Linked DNA regions of Homo sapiens: region 2 is linked to region 1. A link means that fine-mapping ties the variant in region 1 to the expression of a gene that starts in the linked region. Tissue or cell type: whole blood. Region 1 holds a variant in brackets; the other region holds the start of a gene. All regions are shown on one strand. Distances are from middle to middle.

Evidence for each region.
Region 2: it holds the start of NIPBL-DT, and the variant in region 1 is fine-mapped to the expression of NIPBL-DT in whole blood (INTERVAL, PIP 0.92).

What each region holds. Positions count from the first base shown.
Region 1 is chr5:36,920,164-36,931,796 of GRCh38, forward strand. The region is part of intron 1 of NIPBL (NIPBL cohesin loading factor); the gene reads left to right. Among named protein-coding and RNA genes, the nearest start is that of NIPBL, 49 kb to the left of the region's middle. The variant C/T (reference allele first, on the strand shown) is at 5,470.
Region 2 is chr5:36,871,129-36,882,761 of GRCh38, forward strand. NIPBL-DT (NIPBL divergent transcript) reads right to left here and starts at 5,566. Exons shown (of 1, transcript NR_046262.1): 1 at 233-5,566. It overlaps NIPBL (NIPBL cohesin loading factor), which reads left to right and starts at 5,641. Exons shown (of 47, transcript NM_133433.4): 1 at 5,641-6,050. RefSeq lists an enhancer at 4,937-4,986 and silencers at 5,397-5,506, 6,147-6,266.

The DNA.
Region 1 (11,633 bases):
CTCAAGTGACACAAATGCATATGTTTTCAGAGACTAAGAAAGCATAAATTGATGATGACAGAACTTGTAACGCATTTAGATTTGTGTCACTTGAAAAACACTTGTTACAAGCATGTTGTCAATTTGTGTATTTCAACAAATAGCCATTTTAAAGAAAAACATAAAGTAAATAATAGTACACTGATGATATTCAGATATGGTGAAATCATACAGGTAGACCTTGAATGAATAATGAGCACATTGCTTTAGGACAGATGTGACTCTCAACTTTTGATATTTGACTGTGTGAGTTTAAAGTTGATGCTTTAATTTTTTAATAGGTCAAACTTGGGAATCTAATGACTGATAGTATTTTTGATAAGAAAGCACTAATATAGAACAAGAAACAGTGTTCTGAAATGAAAATTATCAGACTTCCACTTTCTGTTCATATCTATTTCAAAAAATGTACGTGGCATATTATGTTCTTTGCTACTTAGTGGCTATTAAAATGGAATCATTTTATAAATGTCTTTCAGCAAAGAAAAATGTTGTCTGCTGCTGTGATCACCCGCCACTAAGTACTGTGCTCCTCCTCTCAGTAGCTTGACCACCTTATATACTTTATGTGGCATCTTTAACCTGTATCTGTCACCTTACATATCTTCTTCTTTGTTCCTTAATTTTTTTTTTTTTTCAAAGACTGCCTGGACCTACTCTCTCATTCTCTCCTCTGTATTGCTGCTATAGTTGTCACTTTCTTCTACATTCCCATTCTCTGCTTTGGCTGCTGTAATTATCTTTTGCTTTTACTATTTTGATCTTGTCATTCAGGACTGTACTATAAATTACATTTTACCATGGGTTAGGTTTACCTATCTTCAAAAAACTTCAGATTACCTTATTCTCTCCTCAATACCAAATAATATACTCTAGTTTTCTTAGCTAATTTTTAAGCGTCTCCCCATTCCTCCAGATCCACCAAGAAAAATTCATCCTACACCACATTTTTACCCCTGGACCTAAAGTGTATTATATGTTCTTGAACAGGAAAATTTCATCTCCTGAAAAAAAAAAAATTACTGATATTTCCATGAGTACATATTGATTCTGGTTTGACTACTATTTTGAAATAGAGTGGATGTAAAAATCTATGATGAAATCTTAAAACTAGTAAAATTATCATTAGAACTAGTATTATACATGGAACTATTAGTCTGGTAGCATAGTCTGTTATACTACTCACACTAAAGCAAAATAAAAAGTACTGTCTTCACTTGGAACTGTTGTCTTACAATTCTGTGCCTGTCTTCACCATTTCATGAAAATATTAATTGTTCTTCTTGGCTTACTTTTTCTTTAATTTATGTTCTTGCCAGGTCAAAATCAAAAGTGATGATTTAGGACTTGGGCATTTGTCGAGATAAGTTCATATTGTCACCACTTTCCCAATTTTGAAGCTTACAAAAAAAATAGGCAGGATTTTAGTTTGCCTTCAGTTAGGGAAAGGAGAATTCATTTGCCACAGGAGTAAAATCCTACGTTTTATAAAGCTATTTTAATGAAAATACCAGCTTTCCAAAATGAATGGGACAAACACAGAATTGATTGTTGCTTAAAAACTTTAACTGTATTGAGTTTTGGTAAATCATAATTCAAAAATAAAATGCAGGGGGACAAGAAATTATTAACTTTTTATTGTTGAAATACATTTTCCTCAAAGTGTTTTTTTGGTTTTGGGTTTTTTTTGTTTTTTTTTTTTGAAACGAAGTCTTGCTCTGTCACCCAGGCTGGAGTTCAGTGGCGTGATCTCAGCTCACTGCAACCTCTGCCTCCCGGGTTCAAGTGGTTCTCCTGCCCCAGCCTCCCGAGTAGCTGGGATTACAGGCTCCCACCACCACGCCTGGTTAGTTTTTGTTATTTTTAGTAGAGGCGGGGTTTCACCATGTTGGCCAGGCTGGTCTTGAACTCCTGACCTCAGGCGATCTGCCCGCCTCAGCCTCCCAAAGTGTTGAGATTACAGGCATGAGCGACAGCACCTGGCCCCTTCAATGTTTTTCTTAAAAATATGTTACCAGTTTCTATCACTGCCCATTTTCCACCTCCTTATTTTTTGTATAATGACCTTGAATTTTGACCCATTTCTTAAAAATTGGATTTTTATCATAATTTTTATACTCTTACCCTAAACCTATTAGTTTGATTTTTCAATAAGAAAAATCATGCTATTCATAGTATAGGTGAAATCTCATCTGAGGTTACCCACTTGAGTAGTATATTCATAGAAAAAGTATTTTGAGTCCTTAAGAGCCATGAAGAAAACAAAACTGAGGGGTCAGTTTTCTTTTGGCCATTGTCGAGTATTATACTTTTAACTTAGTATGAAATGTAGGAAATGTCCAGCATACTGGATACTTATTTCTCTGGAATCACTCTGGCTGTCTAATGGTGGTATTTGGTATTACTGCAGAAAGCACAGGTTTTGTTTTAGAAAGTCCTGGATTTGACTATCTTACTCATTTTATGAAGTTGTGCAGTGATGAACTCTGAGGTTCATGTACTTATATTACTTATAAAACATTTAAATTGTTAGGGTTGTTATGCCTAAACTTGATGATTTTATGTACCATCGCAATTTTGTTGAGAAGATAAATGCCAAAAAGCAAACCCTTGGAAAATTAGTTTACCTTTCTTTACCTTACCTTTGATAAAGGGAATGTTAAAGGGTAACTGATTTGAACTACAGATTTCTTTTCTACCACCTTTAAGGTCCTTTCCAGTATTATCTCTGTAAACAAAGTTAAAGAAAAATACATTTGAAAGAAAAGATTTGTTGTAACTAAACCAATTAAAGCTGGCTTCTAGGCCAGGGCTGGTGGCTCACACCTGTAATCCCAGAACTTTGGGAGGCCGAGGCGGGCGGATCACGAGGTCAAGAGATCAAAACCATCCTGGCCAACATACAAAATTACAAAATTTTTGTAATTTTGTACTAAAAATACAAAATACAAAAATTAGCTGGGTGTGGTGGCGTGCACCTGTAGTCCCAGCTACTTGGGAGGCTGAGGCAGGAGAATCGCTTGAACCCAGGAGGTGGAGGTTGCAGTGAGCCGAGATCACACCACTGCACTCCAGCGTAGATGACAGAGCGAGACTCCATCTCAAAACAAAAAACAAAAACAAACAACAACAAAAAAATGCTGACTTCTCAGGGCCAATGATGTTATTCTCTGAGATATATATATATTTTTTCCTTTCATGGATAAGTTGAGGACATTATCTTGATATCTCTTGATCTGATAACTAGAGTAATCTTTGAATATTGTTGTTAGTTATTATTAAAAACACTTATTAAGGTCCTTTATGGAAAGTGACCAGTTTCCTGCTTTTATATACATTCTTCTTTCTGTGGCCTGAAACATTATGTGGTCTTTGGTTATTTACTTTACAATTTAGTTATTCTGATAAATACTCTTACTTTAAAAATTTTATATCCAGAAGAATCTTTTTCTGCAGTCACAGAAGTAGTCTTGGTTGACCTGTTTTGGCTTTCTGTGTAATGTCTGTATTAGATACCAACTGATTGATATAAATGAGACTCTAAGGGGATAATAATAAGTGTTAAGGCCCAATCAACACCCTGAGGCTGTGAAAATGTTCACTACTATTTGTAGAAAGTTCATATATAATATGATATAAAAATTGCAAATTGAGTCCTGGCAATATCTAGTCTTATAAATGGATAGAGCAAGATGCACTTTTGAGTGAATGAATTCCTGTTTTAAAGTGGTTAAGGATTATATTTGCAAGTTCCAAGTTATCTGTATTCTACTAATTGTCCTATAGATGACATTGTTATAATTTGTTCACTCACATTGTTGCTTTCCACTAAGATCTGTTATTATTATCTTTAGGATTTTCTTATTTGTTAACATGATTGCTTAAGTGATTAATCAAACTAAATCAGATAACATAGAACTCAATGAATATAGCTCTTAACTTTGGATAACAGCTATTTTCCTCTTGAACTAATATCCAAATTTTTGATCTTTAAATGTTACAACTGCAGTAAGCATGGAATATTATTGAAATAAATTTAAATATAACTGTTTAATAAATTATTAATTATGGATGATTAATAAAATGTTTAGTGTGTTACTGAATGTTTCTTGAGAAAATTTTATATCAGTTTAAATAGTTTTGTAGCTTGTCAGCATTACAGAATTTTTTATTTTTTTATTGTGTCATTAAGTGTAGTGGTTAAGAACATAGGCCTGGAGTAAGATTTGAATTCATATTCTGATTGTGGTCTTTATTAGCTGTGTGAACTTAGGCAAATTACTGTAACCTCTTTGAAAAGGCTTCCATTTCTATAATAGTTTGCCAGCTGGTTTGGTCAGGAACACTGTATTGTCTTGTGTATAGGTGTATCCACAATGTCTGGTACCTTGTAGGTACTCACTAAATTTTTAATGAAATGAATGATAACTGCTTTGGATGATTGCCATGAAAATTAAATGATGATATGAATGTAAAGCAGCTAGTAATGTACATAGCTGACACTAACTGCTGTTATTATCAACAGTGACAGAAAATCTCCAGTCTAGCTAATACAAGAAATAGATTTTTCCTCAGACTCTCATCTCACATTCCCTTTTAAGATTTCCTTGTCCTATCCCCACCCCAGACGTTTCCATTTTGCTTTTATTTTCTATAATAATTCCTGGGGGCCTCTATTAAAGGCCTTTTTCTTTGACTACTTACATCCATTATACCAGTATCTTTGTCAGTAAAATTTTATATATCTTTTATTCTGTCATCAGGTTAAGAAACAATAATTGTATTTTTAAAGGAAAATATTTTACGATGCTACTAAGCAGTTACTTTGTCCACTTATGCAGGTATTTCATAAGTATGAAGTAGGGAGGTCAATATCTGTCTGACAGGAATCTGCTGAAGATTAATGTTATCTAGCAGAATGCTTGGCATATAGAAGGTACTCAAATAAGTGATGCTATCTATTAATAGCATTGATAGTAATACTTTAAAACACTCTTTTCTAGTATATCATATCTCCAAATTTAATATTTATTGTCTTTTACACTTATTTTACATACATTAATTCATTACTTTTTTTTTTTTTGAGATGGATTTTCACTCTTGTTGCCCAGGCTGGTGTGCAATGGCGTGATCTCGGCGCACTGCAACCTCCGCCTCCTGGGTTCAAGTGATTCTCCTGCTTTTGCCTCCTGAGTAGCTGGGATTACAGGCATGTACCACCACACCGGCTAATTTTGTATTTTAGTAGAGACGGGGTTTCACCATGTTTGCCAGGTTGGTCTCGAACTCCCGACCTCAGGTGATCCATCCACCTCGGCCTCCCAAAGTTCTGGTATTAAAGGCATGAGCCACCGCGCCCAGCCAGTTCATTAATTTTTAAAATAACTCTGAGGTAGGCACTATTATCCTCACTTTATATTTGAGGAAACC[C/T]TCAAAGAGACTAAGTAAATAACTTAAAGTCTTTCAACTAGTACGTGGCAGAATTATAATTAAAAACCTGTTTTTGCCACTATTGCATATTGTTAGAAGGCTGTTTCTTCTTGAGGCTGAGCTAAGAGAACATATATCCATCCTACGTAACTTACAGTTCCCATTGTCTGTTCATTTGCCTATATTCTACTCACATTTCCTGCTTTCCATTCTTACTTATTTCTGTCCAACTAGACCAAGAACATAATATTCTATACCCTGTCTCCCAAACTTCTAAGTCATGGATTTGTTTTAACCTCCTGCTATGCTCATTTAGCTAGGTATCATTTATGAATATTTTCTTCTCATTTTCGTACCCATTCTCAAGTCTAATTCATTGATGACTCAGTCACGTCAGTAGTTTCTCCATTACCATGGCAATACCTTCCTGAATATGAGAATAAACATATATCCTGACTTAATTCCTTTGGCTCACTCTGTGAATTCTTTACCACTTTTGAACACTGTAAATGTACCTTTGAGAACTTCTTTGTTGCCAGTTTGATTTAAAAACAAAACAAAAAAATGTTACTGACTGTTCCAGTTATCTGTTGCTGTGTAACAAACTACTCCCCATACTTAGTGTGGTTTTAAAATAACAGCCATTTTCCTATGTCTCACGATTTTGTGGGTCAGGAATTTAGGCAGGGCTTGGCTTTGTTCATGTGGTGGTGATGGAGGTTACTTGGAGGTATTCAGCTGGTAGATGGGCTGGCCAGAATAGTTCCAGATGGCTTTACCCATATAAGTGCCGCCTTGGTAGAGACAGCCAAAAGGCTCGATTCAGCGGAGACATCATGTGTAGCATCTGCATACAGCATCATCAGCATGGCTTTTTCATGGTCATGTGATATTTAACATAGTGGATCAGGGTTTCCAAAAAGTATTGTCAACATGCTTATTTGAAAGCTGTAAGATTTCTTATCACCTAGCCCCTTTCTGCTGCATTTTATTCACCATGCATGTCACAAAGGTCAGCCCAGATTCAAAGGAGAGGAATTAGCCATTACCTCAATATGAGGACTAGCAAATAATTTGTGGTTTTTATTTTTTATTTTTGTGGGTACATAGTAAGTATATATATTTATGGGGTATGTGAGATATTTTGGTATAGGCATGCCATGAGTACTAATCATGTGGTTTTTAATCTGCCACATTGAATTAAACCAATTATTTTAGATTGTGTAAATTCAAGTTGAAAAAAATTGGTAATAGGGCAAATGGTTTCATGTATTTTTTTACCGGGAACAAATTTAAACAGTTATTAGAATCAGAGCACCTATAATGGGAGTCAATTTTTCCTGAAGCTGAACCAAAATGTTTATTGGTTTGATTTGAAAGGAGAAGTTGGTTTTGTTGACGTTAGAACTATAAACACTTTTTCCTATAAATATGTATATTCTCCCTCTAATATTTGCTTTATGATTAACAGTGTACTATCATCTGCTTTTGTATCACGACTTGAGTTCAAGAGTTGTAGGTGTATGAGATCTGAGAAAAGAAAGAATCCTCCACTCCATTTCATTTAATGTTATATTCTCACCAATTTATATAACACTTACATATTATAAGTATTGTTTTCTCAAGGAGGATACAGGCATATTTTACTGAGAGGAGAAAAGAATATCAAGGCGGATTTTTGGTTTAAAATGTTATTCATATTCTAAACTTGTAGATCATTATAAGGATTTTGCCTTTGCTCTGAAAAAGTCATTGAAGGATTTCAAAAAGAGTGACATGATCCAACCTGTATTTTAATAGAATCTCTGATTGCTATGTTTAACTGCCAAGGAGTGCAAGAGTGAAAAAGACCAATTAAGAGTCTGGGAAGGGAGCATGGTGGCTTGGAAATGGTCGAATTTTGGATATATTTTGAAGGTAGAGACTCACGATCCAAAAGTTGTGTAAAAAAGATAGGAGTCAAGGATAATAAGATTTTTGGCCAAAGGAACTGGACAAATGAGTTGTCTTTAATCAAAATTAGGAGTATTGTAGAAGAAGCACGAAGAACAGTATAAGGAATTTATTTTGGAAGTAAGTTTGAGATGGTTGTTAGACATCCAAATGGAGATATCAAATAGGCAGTTGGATATACCAGTCTGGAGTTCAGGAGAGAGGTCCAGGCTGGAGTCTTTAATATATATAGTGTTTAAAATCCTTGAGACATGGAAATCACCAAGGGAGAATAAAGTGGTAAAGGAGACGGGTTTCGCCATGTTGGCCAGGCTAGTCTCAAAATCCTGGCCTCAGGTGATCCACCTGCCTCAGCCTCCCGAAGTAGATTACAGCCATGAGCCACCATGCCCGGCTGCAGTGATTTTTTTTTTTTAAATTTTCTACCACTTTCTTTCAATAAAACCATACTCGATGCACAAAAAGAGCAGGAAAGTCAGGAGACTGGGAAGCTTTGCAACTAACTTTGAATGTGTGGTCTTGAACACGTAATTTCATCTTTTTCTTATCTGTAAAACGAAGAGATTGGACTAGATTATTTGTAAGATGCCTTCCTACTTTAATATATCAGTGAATCTTTTCAAAACAGGGTAATTATATTGAATGTAACTGTCATCCTAGGGTAAGTGAAGTAGTCTTTAACTACATGCAGGTGACAGTTTGTAAGCTTGCTTAAAAACATGATTGCTTTGCCTATTCTTCTCAAGAAATTTTAGTCAAGTGCAAGTTAGAGCTAATTAATACAACCAAATCACAGTGTTTGTTTTTGCATTCCCAGAAATTGTTAGTACTGTATATGATCAGTATGTACAATAAATGTTTTTACTAACTAAAAAAATTTCTTAAGGAAAAATATATTGACCTAAGGAGAAATGTTTAGAGCTAGATAAAGGAGATTAATATCTCTAGATGCAATTTTACTTTACAACGTTATTGAGGTATGATCCGCTTAATATAAAGTTCACCTGTTTAAGTATACAATTTAATGGTTTCTAGTTTTAGAACCTTTTCATCAGTCCCCAAATTTTCCTCAAGCCTATTTGCAGTGAGTTCCCAACTCCCACAGCCCTCTCCAGTCCTGGCAACTACTGATCTGCTCTTTGTTTCTATAAATTTTTCTGGACATTTCATCTAAAAAGAATTATATGTAGTATTTTGCATCTGGCTTCTTTCACTTTGCATGTTTTGAGGTTCATTTATGACATAACGTATCAGTATTTTGTTCTTTTTTATTGCTGAATGGTAGTTCATTGTATTATGATATTTTGTTTGTCTATACACTAGTTGGTAGATACTTATATAATTTCCAGTTTTTTACTTTTATGAGTAATACTTTTTTGAGCATTCATGGAGAAATCTTTGTGTAGACATACGTTTTTATTTATCTTGGATACATTCCTAAGAATGGAATTGCTGGGTCATATGATAATTAACTTTTTAAGAAACAGCCAAACTGTATTCCAGTGTGGCTGTATCATTTTACATTTCTACCAGCAGTGTGTAAGGGTTCAAGTTTCTCTACATCTTCACCAACAGTTAATAGTGTCTTTTTTTATAACATTATGACAGTTTAATGGATGTGTCATGGTATCATTGTGGTTTCAGTGAGAATATACCTAATGACTAATGATACTGAGCACTTTTTTTTATATGTTTATAAGCCATTCACATGTGTTCTTTGGTGAAGTGATATTGAGCACTTTTTTTTGTATATTTATAAGCCATTCATATGTGTTCTTTGGTGAAGTGTCTTAAGTAAGTTCTTTGCCCATTTTCAAAGTTGTGTTATCTTCTTGTTCACTAGTGAGAGTTCATTTAAATTCTGAATACAAGAGCTTCATCAGATTTGTGATTTGGCAATATTTTCTCCCAGTCTATGGCTTGTCTTTTCATTTTCTTATTGATATCATTTGAACTATGAAAATTGTTAACTTTAATGAAATCCAGTTTATCAGTTTTATCTTTTATGGCTCATGTTTTTGTTATCTAAGAACTCTGCCTTGTTTTTGTCATCTAAGAACTCTGCCTGACCTAAGGTCACAGATGTTTTCTCCTATATTTTCCTTTAGATGGTTTATAGTTTAAGCTCATACATTTAGGTATTTGATCCATTTGAATTAATTTTTGTGTATGGTATAAGTTAATGGTCTGTTTTTAAATTTATTTTTGCATGTAAATGTCCAGTTATCTAAAAATCATTTGTTGACAAGACTGTCTTTTATTCCATTGAATTTTGTGGGCATCTTTGTGAAAAATCTAACATAAATACAAAGATTTATTTCTGGACTCTAGATTCTCTTCATTGATCAATCCGTATACCTGTCCTTATATTAATAGCACACAATCTTGATTACTGTAGCTTCATAGTAAGTTTTGAAATTGGGTAGTATAAGTTCTCCAACTTTTTTCTTCACTAAATTATTTTGGCTATTCTAGATCCTTTGTATTTTCCTATAAAGTTAGGATCAGCTTATTTCTATGGAAAAAAAACAGCTGGGATTTTGAAAAAGATTATGTTGAATCTATAGATCAATTTGAAGAGAATTACCATATTAACAATTTTGAGTCTTCTAATTTATGAGCATGGAATGTTTTAGATCTTTTTGGCTCAGCAGTGTCTTATAACAGTGTGCAAATACAAATCTTATACTGATTTTTAAAAATTTATTCCCAAATATTCTTCATGGTCCTAGTTTGAATGGAATTGTTTTCTTAATTTCATTTTTGCATTTTTGCTAGAATATAGAAATACAACTGATTTTTGTATGTTGATTTTCTATCTTGTGATCTAGCTGAGCTTTTTTTTGATTCTAGTTGTTCGTTGGTGGTTTCTTAGGATTTTCTACATACTGGACAGTGTCATCTGATAATGCAGTTTCATTTCTTCCTGTCTAATCTGAATGCATTTAATATCTTTTTAAGTTTTTTTCTTAAAATGTGTTACTTTTTGGTGTTTTGCTGTACTAACTAAAACCTACAGGACAATATTCAGTGGAAGGAATAAGAACAGGCATTTTTGTTTTTCTCCTGATAGGGAAGTTAGCTGTAGAATTTTCATAGATGCTCTTTATTAGGTTGAAGAAGAGCCTTTTTATTTCTAATTTTTGAGAGTTTTAAAAAATAGTGGTTGTTGGATTTTGTCAAGTGTTTTTCTGTGTCTTTCAAAATGGTCATGTAGCTTTAGTTGCTATTTCTATTAATAAGATGTTTTACATTAATTTATTTTTAGATGGTTAACCACCCTTGCATTCACAGGATAAATCCCATTTGGTCATAATGTGTAGTCATTTTTATATGTTGATGAATTTGGTTTGCCAGTTTTTAAAAAATAATTTTTGTATGTGTGTTCATGAGGGATATTGGTCTGTAGTTTTCTTGCATTGTCTCTGTCTGGCTTTGGTGATACCAGACTCAGCTGGGAAATATTCTCTAGTTTATAAAACAGTTTATAAAAGTTTGCTATTCTTTCTTATATATTTCATAAAAATCATTGGTGAGATCGTCTGTGCCTAGGCTTTCTTAGTGTGAAGATTTTTAATAAGTAGTTCAGTTTTCTTATTTGTTAGGGATCTATTCAGAGTTTCTATTTCTTGTTGAGTCTGTTCTGGTAATTTGTCTTTTGAAGAATTTCCTTTTTTTTTAATATAAGTTGTGTAATTTGTTGGCTTAAAGTTAATATTCCCTTTTAATTCTTTCTTTTTTTATTTTTTTGAAAAGGAGTCTCACTCTGTCACCCAGGCTGGAGTGCAGTGGTGTGATCTCGGCTCACTGCAGCCTCTGCCTCCTAGGCTCAAGTGATCTTCCCACCTAACCCTCCTGAGAAACTAAGACCACAGGTGCATGCCACCATGCCTGGCTAATTTTTGTATTTTCTATAGAGACGAGGTTTTTCCTTGTTGCCCAGGTTGCTCTCGAACTCCTGGACTCAAATGATCTGCCCACCTTGGCCTGGAAAGTGCTGGGATTATAGGCATGAGCCATCACACCGGGCCTTCCCTTTTAATTTCTAAAGTATTGGTAGTGATTTCCTCTCCTTCATTTCTGATTTTGGTAATTTGTGTCTGTTCTCTCTTACTTTCCTGATCATTCTATTTAAGACATTGTCAATTTTGTTGATTATTTTTTAAGAACTAATTTTTGAATTCATTCGTATGTCTCTGGTTTTTTTTTTT
Region 2 (11,633 bases), 49 kb before region 1:
TTGGATGGCAAATGAGAGTTACCTATTTAAGAACTTATTTACTTTGGCTAGAGAGAAAACACTTATTGAAAGTTTATTTTTCGGAGGGAGAAAGAAGTTTCCACCATTTTCAGGGAGTAATTTGTTCCTATGATAATTACTCTGTGAAAGATAGAAATTTGCTTTGGTCTGACTTATTAATAAACACTTGTTTTAAGATTGAAGGGAAGGTGGGAAGAAATAGAAACAAACATATATTCTGCCCCATGTTTATTATTGTGCTGTATCGGACATTTTAGATTGGAAAATGTGCTACAACAGATCAGTAATAGTCACAGATCTACACACAACAAATGTAGGTCCACTAGGAAAATAATTCCTCCTCACAACTTTAACCGTATTTGACATTTCTACTAACAACATAACTTTATTTCCTACCCTTTGCCTTAAGATTACCTTTCTGAAACCAGTATCAGATCTCTAAAATAGCCTGGTACTTCCTCTAAAATCCTTCACTAGTTCATAGGCAGTCAGATCTTTCTAACATTCCTTTTTTCCCCATTTTCTAAGGAAAATCTGAACTGTAGATTTTTAAAAACAAAAACAAACACTTTTTTTGGCCTGTAACCCACAATAAGGAATATGTTTTACAAGGTAATCTAACACATATACACATGAACAAATGTTTACTTAAAAACACATACCCTTACCATCTGTGATGTACGCTTTTATTTTCTATTCTTTTCTCTATTTTAAATAAAAAATGCTAGTCATAATGCAATAAATTAATTTCATGACCCATAGTGGTACCATAATCCACAGTTTAAAACACTGGTCTGGAGCAGATGCTTTGACTGCAAGGTAACCTACTCAAGAATGCTGTTAAAATGAGCACCATAAGCCTCTCTTCATACCTATTTTAGATGTTTTAAGTTTTTAACAGATTTTATATTCTTCCTTCATAAATACAGTAATTTTTTAAATGATGTTTTTCCAGATTAGTTCAGTATTAAAATACTTGACTAGTTTAACTCTGGTTCACATGCAGAGTATGTGTAGGTTCCAGAAAGATTAGGCTTTCATGAAACTTTATGGTCTTAAATAATTTTACATTAAAATACTTCAGAAGTGCATTTTTTGAGGCCCTTCCCTCTGTGTAATTCTTATGCATTACACAGTGAAACTTGTAGTATAATGTGGAACTGGTCACTTTGATTTAGTAACATAAGGTATAGATGCATGAAAACATAAACAGTAAGGCCAGGCACAGTGGCTCACGCCTGTAATCCCAACACTTTGGGAGGCCGAGGCCGGGGGATCACGAGGTCAGGAGATGGAGACCATCCTGGCTAACACGGTGAAACCCCATCTCTACTAAAAGTACAAAAAATTAGCCGGGCGTGGTGGTGGGCGCCTGTAGTCCCAGGTACTGGGGAGGCTGAGGCAGAAGCATGGCGTGAACCGGGAGGCGGAGCTTGCAGTGAGCCGAGATTGCACCACTGCACTCCAGCCTGGGTGACAGAGCAAGACTTCGTCTAAAAAAAAAAACAAAAAAAAACAAAAAAACCATAAACAATATAGGAGTGTCATAGGATTATAAATAGATGGCATGGATAATAAAATCTACAAGTTTAGAGAAAATTCGTAATTATAGGTGAGAAGTATTAATGAAAGGACAAAGCTTGTTCTTAAAGGATCAGAATAGGCCAAGATGAAAAAAGGCATCCATGGGAAAAGAACTGTTCATTTCTATAATTTTAACAAAATAGATAATCTATGTTGAATAAAATCCATAAATACTATTTCCAAATTTGATTAAGGTATTTACTTTGAAAACCTGAAACAGGAACATATTTACAGTGTTAAGTGATTTGATAATTTTGTAGTTCTGCCCTAAAAATCAATATCCTTAATTAACCCTTCATCAGTTTCTTAAGTCATCTGTCATCCTGAAAGCAAGTTAATTATTCTAAATGTTAAATAATTTTGGTAGTGTCTAATCTATAAAACATACATACACTACCAGTTTTTTTTCTACCTTTAACAAATTCGTTCCCATAAAAGACAATTTTATCACTAACAAAGGATAACTGGCAGGCATAAAATAGTGAGTAGAAAATGATTTTCTAAAATTTTTCATTTCTATCATTTTATAGCAAGTTGCATTTATCTTAAAGATAAATATTCTTCAATAAAAATAACAATTCAAATTTTTCAGTTGTAGAAATTCCTGGTGATGACATTTGATACAAATAGTTTATCCCTGAAATCCATTTAAAATTTTTAATCAAATCTTCTGCAATTCATTGATCAAGAATACATACGAGACTATCCAGGGATATTTCTAGCAAAGAAAACTGAGTCATGCAACTCAGTTCTTGAAGCAAGGAGGCAATTTAAAGTCAGAATAAAGGTTTACTGGGCTATCCTCAATGGACAAGTGGAGGATGTAAGTCACCTGATTTGGAACATAAAAGACTTAAAAATGTAAGAGCAAAACAAATGGATGGTATTGGGAAAAATAATTATTAAGAAAAAAAAACCCAAGACAATGAAATGAAGAAAACACTAATATTAGATTAACAGATTCTATGTAAGATCTCAACTTGGATACTTAAATTTATGCAAGCAAAATACCATTTGATTTAATAGAGAAATACTGTGATATGAATTGAAACAATTTCTTTGATTCTATAACCTGGAAAAAAAATGGTATAAACTATATACAAGTTAAAACCCTCAAAGGCAGTGTTGTTTTCATTCACTGCCATGCATGAGATGTCTAGCATAAAGCTAATTAGCGCCTAATAAGTCCTCAATAAGGGAAGAAACTAAAAAAACTTAAAAATTTTAAATTAAATGACACAATAATGCCAAGACTTTCCAAAGCAGATTGACTGTAGCAGCTGCAGTTACCTGGACATGCAAAATTACTAGTTTACCAGTAACATTTAAGAAAGCAGACAAGAAGATAATTGTGCTTCTATTAGCGAATTGAAATAATGGTATTTTGAAACTGAGTGAAAAACACATTCTGAGTCATCTGTATTAACTTAAAGCTGTTCTGAAGATTAATGGGAAAAATAATAATGAATAGACGATTGGATTTACTAAACAATGTTTGATTAATTGTATTAATGGTTATAAAATACCTATCAAGGCTGTCTTTTCTTGTCCAAAAATTCAATACATGAAATATGAAAATTTGTAATACCATAGCCAAAGCCTTATTGCATAGCTTCTAGCTTACTGATATATTTACTTATTTTAATTTAAAAAGCCTGTTTTTCCAGCCACTAGGAAATAAGATTTCTCACGTTTTATAGTACTCAAAAATCATGATTAAGTATATCTAATGCTAACCTAAGTGTAAGCAAACAGCAAACTAAATGGTGAATTAAAATATCCACACCAAGCCTGACCTCAGCTTTCATTGAACCTTTTCTTCAGAAGAAAACTAAAAATAAATTTCACTAGCATTTGCTTTGCTTGACAGCATAATTGAGTAGCAACCAAAGTAGCCACATGTGGTCCTTTATGTAAGGCCTTCTAGCCTCAGAAACACACACCTTTTGAATTAGCGTGCCTGGTACCCATTTGTGCCCAATAAATACTTGCTGAATGAACTTTTCCAATAGTGCTGGATTTGCTCTGAGCCAACCAAATTCTCACTTTTAATGTATTTTGAAAGACAGAGGACGACAAGATGAAGAATGCAGTTTGAGACTCAGAAGAGCAAACATAATCGGCCCAGTATGGATATGATCATTTGATGCACTGTCCTCGGGCATGCTCATTTACAGAAGCCTAAAAACAAATTTTATCCCTCATTTGTGGGTTTCTGGTGTTGTGGAGGGCTTTCCAATGTTTAGAAGCAATATATTTTTATAGAATTCTGTAATAAACGTGTTTTAAATCTTTTATAAAGCTCTCTGTAGCATATAAGTACATATTAAAGACAGAAATGGGGGAGCATCAAGGCCCTTATAATCGCATTCATTCCTTAACCACATACTACGCATCTACTGTGTGGCATTCTAGGCGGGGGCCGTAACACCAGTGCAGAAAAACACAACCTCTTGTCCTCTTAGAGCTTACATTGCACTGGGGAAGGAGAGATAAGAAGATAAACAAGTATGGATATGTAGACTGTCCAAAGGATAAAATGAGAAGGGGGCTAGGGAACTTTCAGTTTAAAAGTAGCCGCGGAAGCACCGAGTGACACGAGCAAAATCCTGAAGGTGAAGGAGCAAGCCCTGTGGACGACGCTCAGGGAAGAGTCCTACTCGCAAGGATGCCAGGGCAGGCCCGCCCCCACCCTCAACGGCGCGCGGGGACTTCTGCCGCAGTCAAGGCTTTGGCTCACTCCCCTCAAGACGGGAAGCCATTCGCAGGGCCTAGAGAAAAGGAGTGACAGGATCTTGGCCCCCTGAGTGGCCTGAGGCAAAAGGAATAATCTAAGCAAGTTTTCCTACTTACTTTTAGCGCACTGGTACACACACAAATACACAATACAATTCATATAACACGAATTTCGTCCCGGTTGAGTAAAATTCCGCTTACCTACTGCACTTTTTACCGAAAATAGCCCCTTTTTAATTTACACAAACTTAATAGAGAACGGTGGAACAATGGTTACTTCTTGTTTTACAATTTAAAAACTACAACAACCATAGTACTGTACGTATAATCACATATTGTATTCCAGCCTTGTCCAGCGCCTCAGTTTTCCGAACCTAAAGAGGAAAACGATGTTTGAAATCAGCTGGCCGCAGGCCCGCGGGTCGCCCGCAGTCACCGGTGGCTGAGTCGGGGCCGGCGGTTCTCCCCGCGCGCTCGGCTCCACCCACACCTAGAGGGGGGCGCCCGGGCAGCCGCGGGCGAGCTTCTCGCTCGCGCAGCGTCGCCTACAGGCCTTTATCCTGACCGTTAGAGAAGAACCCAAACCTCTGCCGACAAAAAGCAAAAGCAGCGGAGACCGCGTATTTCCAGAAATAAACGCATCATCACAAACACGATTCCAATTCAATCCAGCCGACAGTCGTCTTCACCTCCAAAGGTTGCGTTCTTATTCGCAGAAATAACACGCAGTCGGGCGTAAGGTCCCGGCTCTCAAAAGGCAAGGTGTACGATCCATCCATCCACCCGGCTGCAGGGACACCATTTAAAACGGGCATCATCGCCATCGAATCGCGGGCGTCCTCTGTGGGGCCGCCCGGAGATCGGCTCCCTAAAGCTAACGACGACCTGGGACAGCCAGCGCGGCCTCCAGCCGCCGCCGTCGGCGACCTGAGAGCCCGTCCGGGCCTGAGTGCCCCCCACGCTCACGACCACCACCGAACTCGGGCCCCGCTCCTGTCGGCCTCCAGGAAAATAAAGACAGAGGAGAGCCGGCCCGCCTGTGTCGCAGGGCAAACGTCGCTCTGAAGCATCGACAATACTGGCAACATCCACAGCCGCCCTGAGGGGACGGGCGTAGAGGAGAGCTGCCGCCTCCCGGCTGCTGGGCCCGGGTGCCGCGCGGCGCGGCCGAGGACGCGAGCCCAAGTGGCGGCAGCGGCGGCTGCGGCGGTGGCGGAAGTGGAGTGGGGAAGAGGGGGTGGTTGTTAGTGTTTGGCGCCGGCGGAGGGAGTCATTCCTGCAGCTGCACTTCCGGTCGGCATTTTGTTCTGAGAGGGAGAGACGGAACGAGAGAGAGACACACACAGGGCTCCTTCCCCCCGCCCTCCCCCCCCTCCCTCCGTCGGTACCGACTCACCCGACACCACCAAGCCGCAGGGAGGGACGCCCCCGCCGACAGGAGAATTGGTTCCCGGGCCCGCGGCGATGCCCCCCCGGTAGCTCGGGCCCGTGGTCGGGTGTTTGTGAGTGTTTCTATGTGGGAGAAGGAGGAGGAGGAGGAAGAAGAAGCAACGATTTGTCTTCTCGGCTGGTCTCCCCCCGGCTCTACATGTTCCCCGCACTGAGGAGACGGAAGAGGAGCCGTAGCCACCCCCCCTCCCGGCCCGGATTATAGTCTCTCGCCACAGCGGCCTCGGCCTCCCCTTGGATTCAGACGCCGATTCGCCCAGGTAAATTCCTGCTCTTTATTTCGGCGGCGGCGGCGGCGGCGCCGGCGCCAGGTCCTCAGCGTCTCTCCTCCTCGCTCCCCTCCCCGCCGTTTCCTTAGCGGCCCCAGGTCTCTTCCACAGGCGAGTCTAGAGTTCGCTCCTCTCTGGTGGCAGCCGCCTTGGGTAGCGGTGGTTTTGTACCCTCTCCCGGCCGGCTCCGGTGGCGGGGACTGGGCTCCTGCTGGGCGGCCGGGGAGGCGTAGGCCCGGCGGAGAGTGCAGGCCGCGGGCCAGCGGAATCTACTTGAGCTCGGGGATTAGGAGAGCTCCGGGCTGAGCGGAGCGACTGCTGGTCGGTGACAGGCCTCGCCCGGGAGTGGAGCCGTAGCTAGTGGGGAGGCGGAAACAATACAACTAACAGCAAATGTGCCCTGATCGTCCCCATATTTACAACTTTCCCGGTCCGGGAGTGGGGAACGTCCCAGTGAAACAAACAACCTCCCTTCTTCCCCCTGTGACCCCATGAAGGGAGGAAGTAGTTTCAGTTAGTGAGACAAACGTAAATACTCAGACGCGGATCCAGTGGTAATTCTTTCTCTTTCTAAAACTTGTTTGGACGTTGGAAAGTTCATAAAGACTCATTTTCTTTTTTAAAGAATTAAATCGTCCACATGAATATTTAATACAGAAAAACATACTGTGGTAGACACTGCACATCTCCCCCTCCCCAAGAGCTTTTATCTTGTTGTTTTGACAGTGTGTTGTTGCACATGGACTTTTTATTCAAAGACAAGTATAAAGTACTTGACAGGTTTACTCTGCCACTTTCTATTTGTATGCGTTATGTAAGGGCAGTTTTAAGCGACTATACGTAAAACACTCAGGTACTTCCTGACCAAAACGTGTAGGAGCATACAAAGAATTTTAAGTGTTCTGAGAATTGTGCTGAGATACGGGTAAAACCACTTTTCTTTTCTTTTTCCAAAAAAGAAATTAAGTTATACTTAAAATCCTTGGGAGGTTAAAAAATTGTAGAAGGTGCCATCCTTTTATGTCAGGGCAGTTCTTCTTGAGGTCCCAGGATTGTCATTGGCTGTTTGTGCCATGATGTTTGACTGTGTAATGAGAGAGGTGTCATTTTAATAGGTTAAATGTATCTGTAAATGCTGGAGAAAAATATCAGTTCTAACTTGACAAGTTCTAGTTCATGAGTAAGTTAAGTGTTTCGAGCTTGTTTATGGAGGCGTTCATAATGTAGGTTGGTATAAGGGGGAAACACCAATTTAAAATTCCTCAGTCAGGCAAATTGCTAGAAAAGTGTACCTGGGTTACACGTTTTGATATTTTGTTTCATATTCGCTGAAGGAAAACTTTCATTGGTTAAAATGAAGCAGCACTGCTCAGCGAAATCCCTTGTTTTACTAGTGTTTGTTACATTGGTTCATATTTTTTGTGTCATTAAATTATTGTCACTGTAGAATAAGTTATTTTGTGGAGGTTATTTTTGAGTTTAGCGTCCTGATTACAATAAATTGTTTCACATTTCCTGCAAACGTACGGATAAATGTTTAAAAGAATGAAGTTAATATAGCTGTCACGTACTAGGCATGTTTTTAATGCTATAAATCCGTGTAGTAGTCAGTAGCGTGTCCGTGATTTGTATTGGTCAGGGAGCAGTTTGAATTTTAAAAAGCCTGAAGCTCCTGCTGAGCCCCAATCCCGGCCTCCCTCCCTCCCACTAATCTCCCATTCCTGTCTTTGTGCTGCCTGCTCCTGTTAGACACTGTTTGCTACGGGGCCTCAGGCCTACTGCGGGTGGGGGGGTGTGCGAGTGGGGGGCATGCCAGGGAGGGAATGCAGACGGGAGGAATACTTCACATCTTAAGAAAGCAGAGGGTTTGTTTTTTTGGGGATGGAGGTGGTAAGGGCTTCATTATAAATGTTTAAAAGGCCTTCATATATTCCTGTGATTGTCTCTACAACTTTTATTTCAAGGGATAAACATATTTTTACTAAAGATAATAGAGGAGTTGTGCTTGCTTAATTTTCACGAACTGAAGCAACTTATTTTTAGAGGTTGTCTTATGCAGATGTTTGAATAAGTGTGTTAGAGATGGGTTTATGTGATTGATTCTTTTTTTTCCTGAGACTTTGGAATTGTTATAGTGAATTAGTTCTTCCCAACTTATTTTCCCAATTCTACATATTTAGTAATTTGTGAGTAATATAGGTTGTGTGATAGCTTTCATTATGATAGCATAAACATTTCTTTAAATTTAAAAATATGTTTTGTTTGGTCCAAACCAATTAAATACGTCATTTTTAAAGGAGAAAACATTGTGTAAAATTCAAATTGTAAAATTTAAACTTGAACTTTAAATCTCTGATAACCTAGTTGGAGAGAATAGTTTGTTTCCCTAAAGAGTGTAGAGTGTTCTGCTTCCCCTCTGTTGGTTGGAATATTCACTAGTGGCTAATCATCTATTTCCATTAAAAATTAAAATTCAGTGAAAGGAGAAATCAGAAGTGTTCCAGTAACCTTATAATCCTAGTTATATTATTTGGAGAAATATTTTCTCATACACCTAAAGGAAATTTCAACAATGTCGCTTATTGTTTCTCTTAACTCTGAAGAGTTGTCAATAACTTTTGTTACTTGAAAAGAGATTTCAAGTAAATAATGAAAGTAAATCAGAGTTGAACATTAAATAGATAATTTTCAATGTTTGAGAAGTGTATATAGGATGCTTCCTTTTTAAAGTTATTCAACAATTTGTTTACTAAAGTTATCTGAGAACATTTTTGAACCTGTTCTAGAGATCATTATAATATTTTCTGCTTTTAAGGAAAAGTTATACATTACTTGAAAAAAGAAAAACAGTCTACTTGAGATTCTTTTTAGGGATGTAAAGTGAAAGTTTTTACTATGGCAGTAAACTTGGTTCTTCATAGTAATCATTATTAAATTTCAAAAATATGAGCAAGCTATACCAATACAAAATTTTCTTTACTTGCAGCCGAAAAATGTATTTTCTAAGGCTTCTTCAACTAATTTCATATTTAATTTTTTGGTACCAATCCATCATCAAACTGTCATAGAAATATTTGAACATATCTGTGTTACATGTTTGAAATACCCCATTGTGGTATTTTTACTTTCTCAAAATAAGATGTAGTAATTAATAATATAAGAGTAAATAAAAACCAGGAGTTTGAGTTTTATTTAATTTCATTTAATCCTCCTTTCTGGTGCTTATTAGGAAAAGCATAATTTGGAAGAAATTCTAAAATTTTAAATTAAGATTTCAGTTTTATGTGAAGTGATTAGGGAGTGTGAGGTAAACAGTAATTCCTTTTAGAGAAATGTAACTTTAATTCTGTTTATCACATTTACTTGCCATAAAAATGAATGGGAAATAATTGACTAGGAACCTTTATAGAAGGCTGACAACTAACTGTTCAGTTGAACATGCTTATTTTAATATCCTGAGCGTACTAGGTTAGGTTTGGTGGTAATTTATGGTCTTATATAGCCTTTAAAAATTGTTTTAAGATGGACTTTTTAAGCAAAGTTTTTCGTTTTTTCAGCAGTTGTCATTTATAATAATTCTTCGTATTTTAAAACTAGTCCTTTTTCAAGGTGACCTGAGTTCATTTAAAAATATTCTGATATCCCTGTGAGAGAAGTGACCAGCTTTCCGTTTAATGATGAAATACTTGACACTTAAGAGACCATATGATTTGTGTAGATTCATGTAGTAAGTCAGCCGGAGGATAAGGGATTCCCTGACACTAGTATTTTCTTAGATTATGTTGCTTTAAGAAATGTGTGAGCTCTGGTCTTGAAGCTAGGTATTGCTCAGTGCTGACACTGACACCATTTGTTACTTTTTCAATTATCTAAGTTCAAAGTGCATTTTTCTTGTCTTTGAGAGAGAGGATACCTGTTTCTTGGTTGTATTTTCCTGGTATGAAAATAGAGTGGGATTTTAGTGTTTCTGGTTGATTTAAAAGGAATTTTAAACTCCATGTCTCTTAAGGCCATCATTGTAATTTTAAAGGGTATTTTATGTGCTTAGAATATTTTGCCCAAATAAATTAAGTAATAAAAGTAATTTTAGGTATTTGTCTTGTGTGTAATTTTTTTTTTTTGGTGTAAATCTGGAGTCAGTTTTGTTGAATTGAGTTTTGTCAAGTTGCATTATGTTTTAAGGCATATTTTTTTCTATTCCCAAAGTTATATCATTAGGAGAGATCATTGCTTGATGTAGCATTGCCAGCTAAGATTTTGAGGACTTATTTGCCAGGAGTTAAGTCTGTCCCCATAATATCTCATTTAATCTTTTAACATGCCCAAAAGTAGAAACAATAATTATCTACAATGTACAGATGAGGAACCTGAGGCTGGAAAGGTTTAGAAAACTGCCCATGGTCCTACAATTAGTAAATGATCAGTCTGATTTACATTTGTTCTTATGGATTCAGGATTCTATGTATCTAGTTTCAATGAAATTTTAATATTATCTTTTGGGTGTTAGTTGATGTGATACTTGCCCAGTCACTTAGTCAAGAAAATTGTGTACTTCAGGCAAAGAAGCTGAAATAGAATTCAGGCTATATATTCTGTATTTATAATACTTTTAAAAATCAATAACTCTTTACCATCTTGTGTTTAAAACAATTTTTGTTAAGCAGTCTGTGAAGCTTTTAGTTCTTTGAAGTATTTTATATTGAGTTGAAGATGTTTGTCAAAGCATCTGTTGTTAGAAAGACAAAGTTCAGCTTTAGAGAGTCATTTCATTCATAGAAATGTATATGACCAATTGTAGGATAGTAGCTAGATCTATAAATTAGTATGACTGATCATTTTGTAAAGTTTCAGTATTTTTATAGCCAGAGAATGTTGATCATTATAGTCATCAACTTGGGAGGTTGTGCGCTTATTCCAGAACTGTTGCCAGTACATACAACCTTATAGGAATTCCTTTTGTGAATACCTTTAACACATTTGAAATAGTCTTTTTCTCATCTTTATGACAAATCTTTATTTTCTGGGGTGAATTTGAGTTTTAGATACTGTACAACGTCACTTGAAACTTAGTTTAGGGATTTTTTTTGTGTCTGGCACTATGTTGAGTGCTTTATGTTTGTAATATGTAGTATTATTGAATGTTTCCATGTGACAGAAACTGTGCGAGGGAAAAGGTTTTTCAGTTCCTCAAGGTATTGAAAAGTTGAATATGAAATTGAAGTTAGTTGTATGAGAAAACTGAGATATAGAATGATTACGTGACTAGCCCAAGGTCACACAACTAATAAGTTCAAGACAGTGGAGAAAGGATTTCAGAGTTGATACTTTACCCATAAGCCTTAACCACGATACTGTGTATCATGATTTGAACCACCCAACTACTCAGTGAAGTTAGTGATACTGTTCTCTTTTTACAGAGGAAATTGAGGTTCATCATGCTTAAGAAACTTATTCAGGGTAGCAAACCTAGCAAGTGTTAGAAGTAGGATTCCAGCTAAAATGTATCTAATTCTAAAACCTCTATTCTTTACATTCTACCACCCTGGCTCTTCAAAATTTATAATACAATTTTTG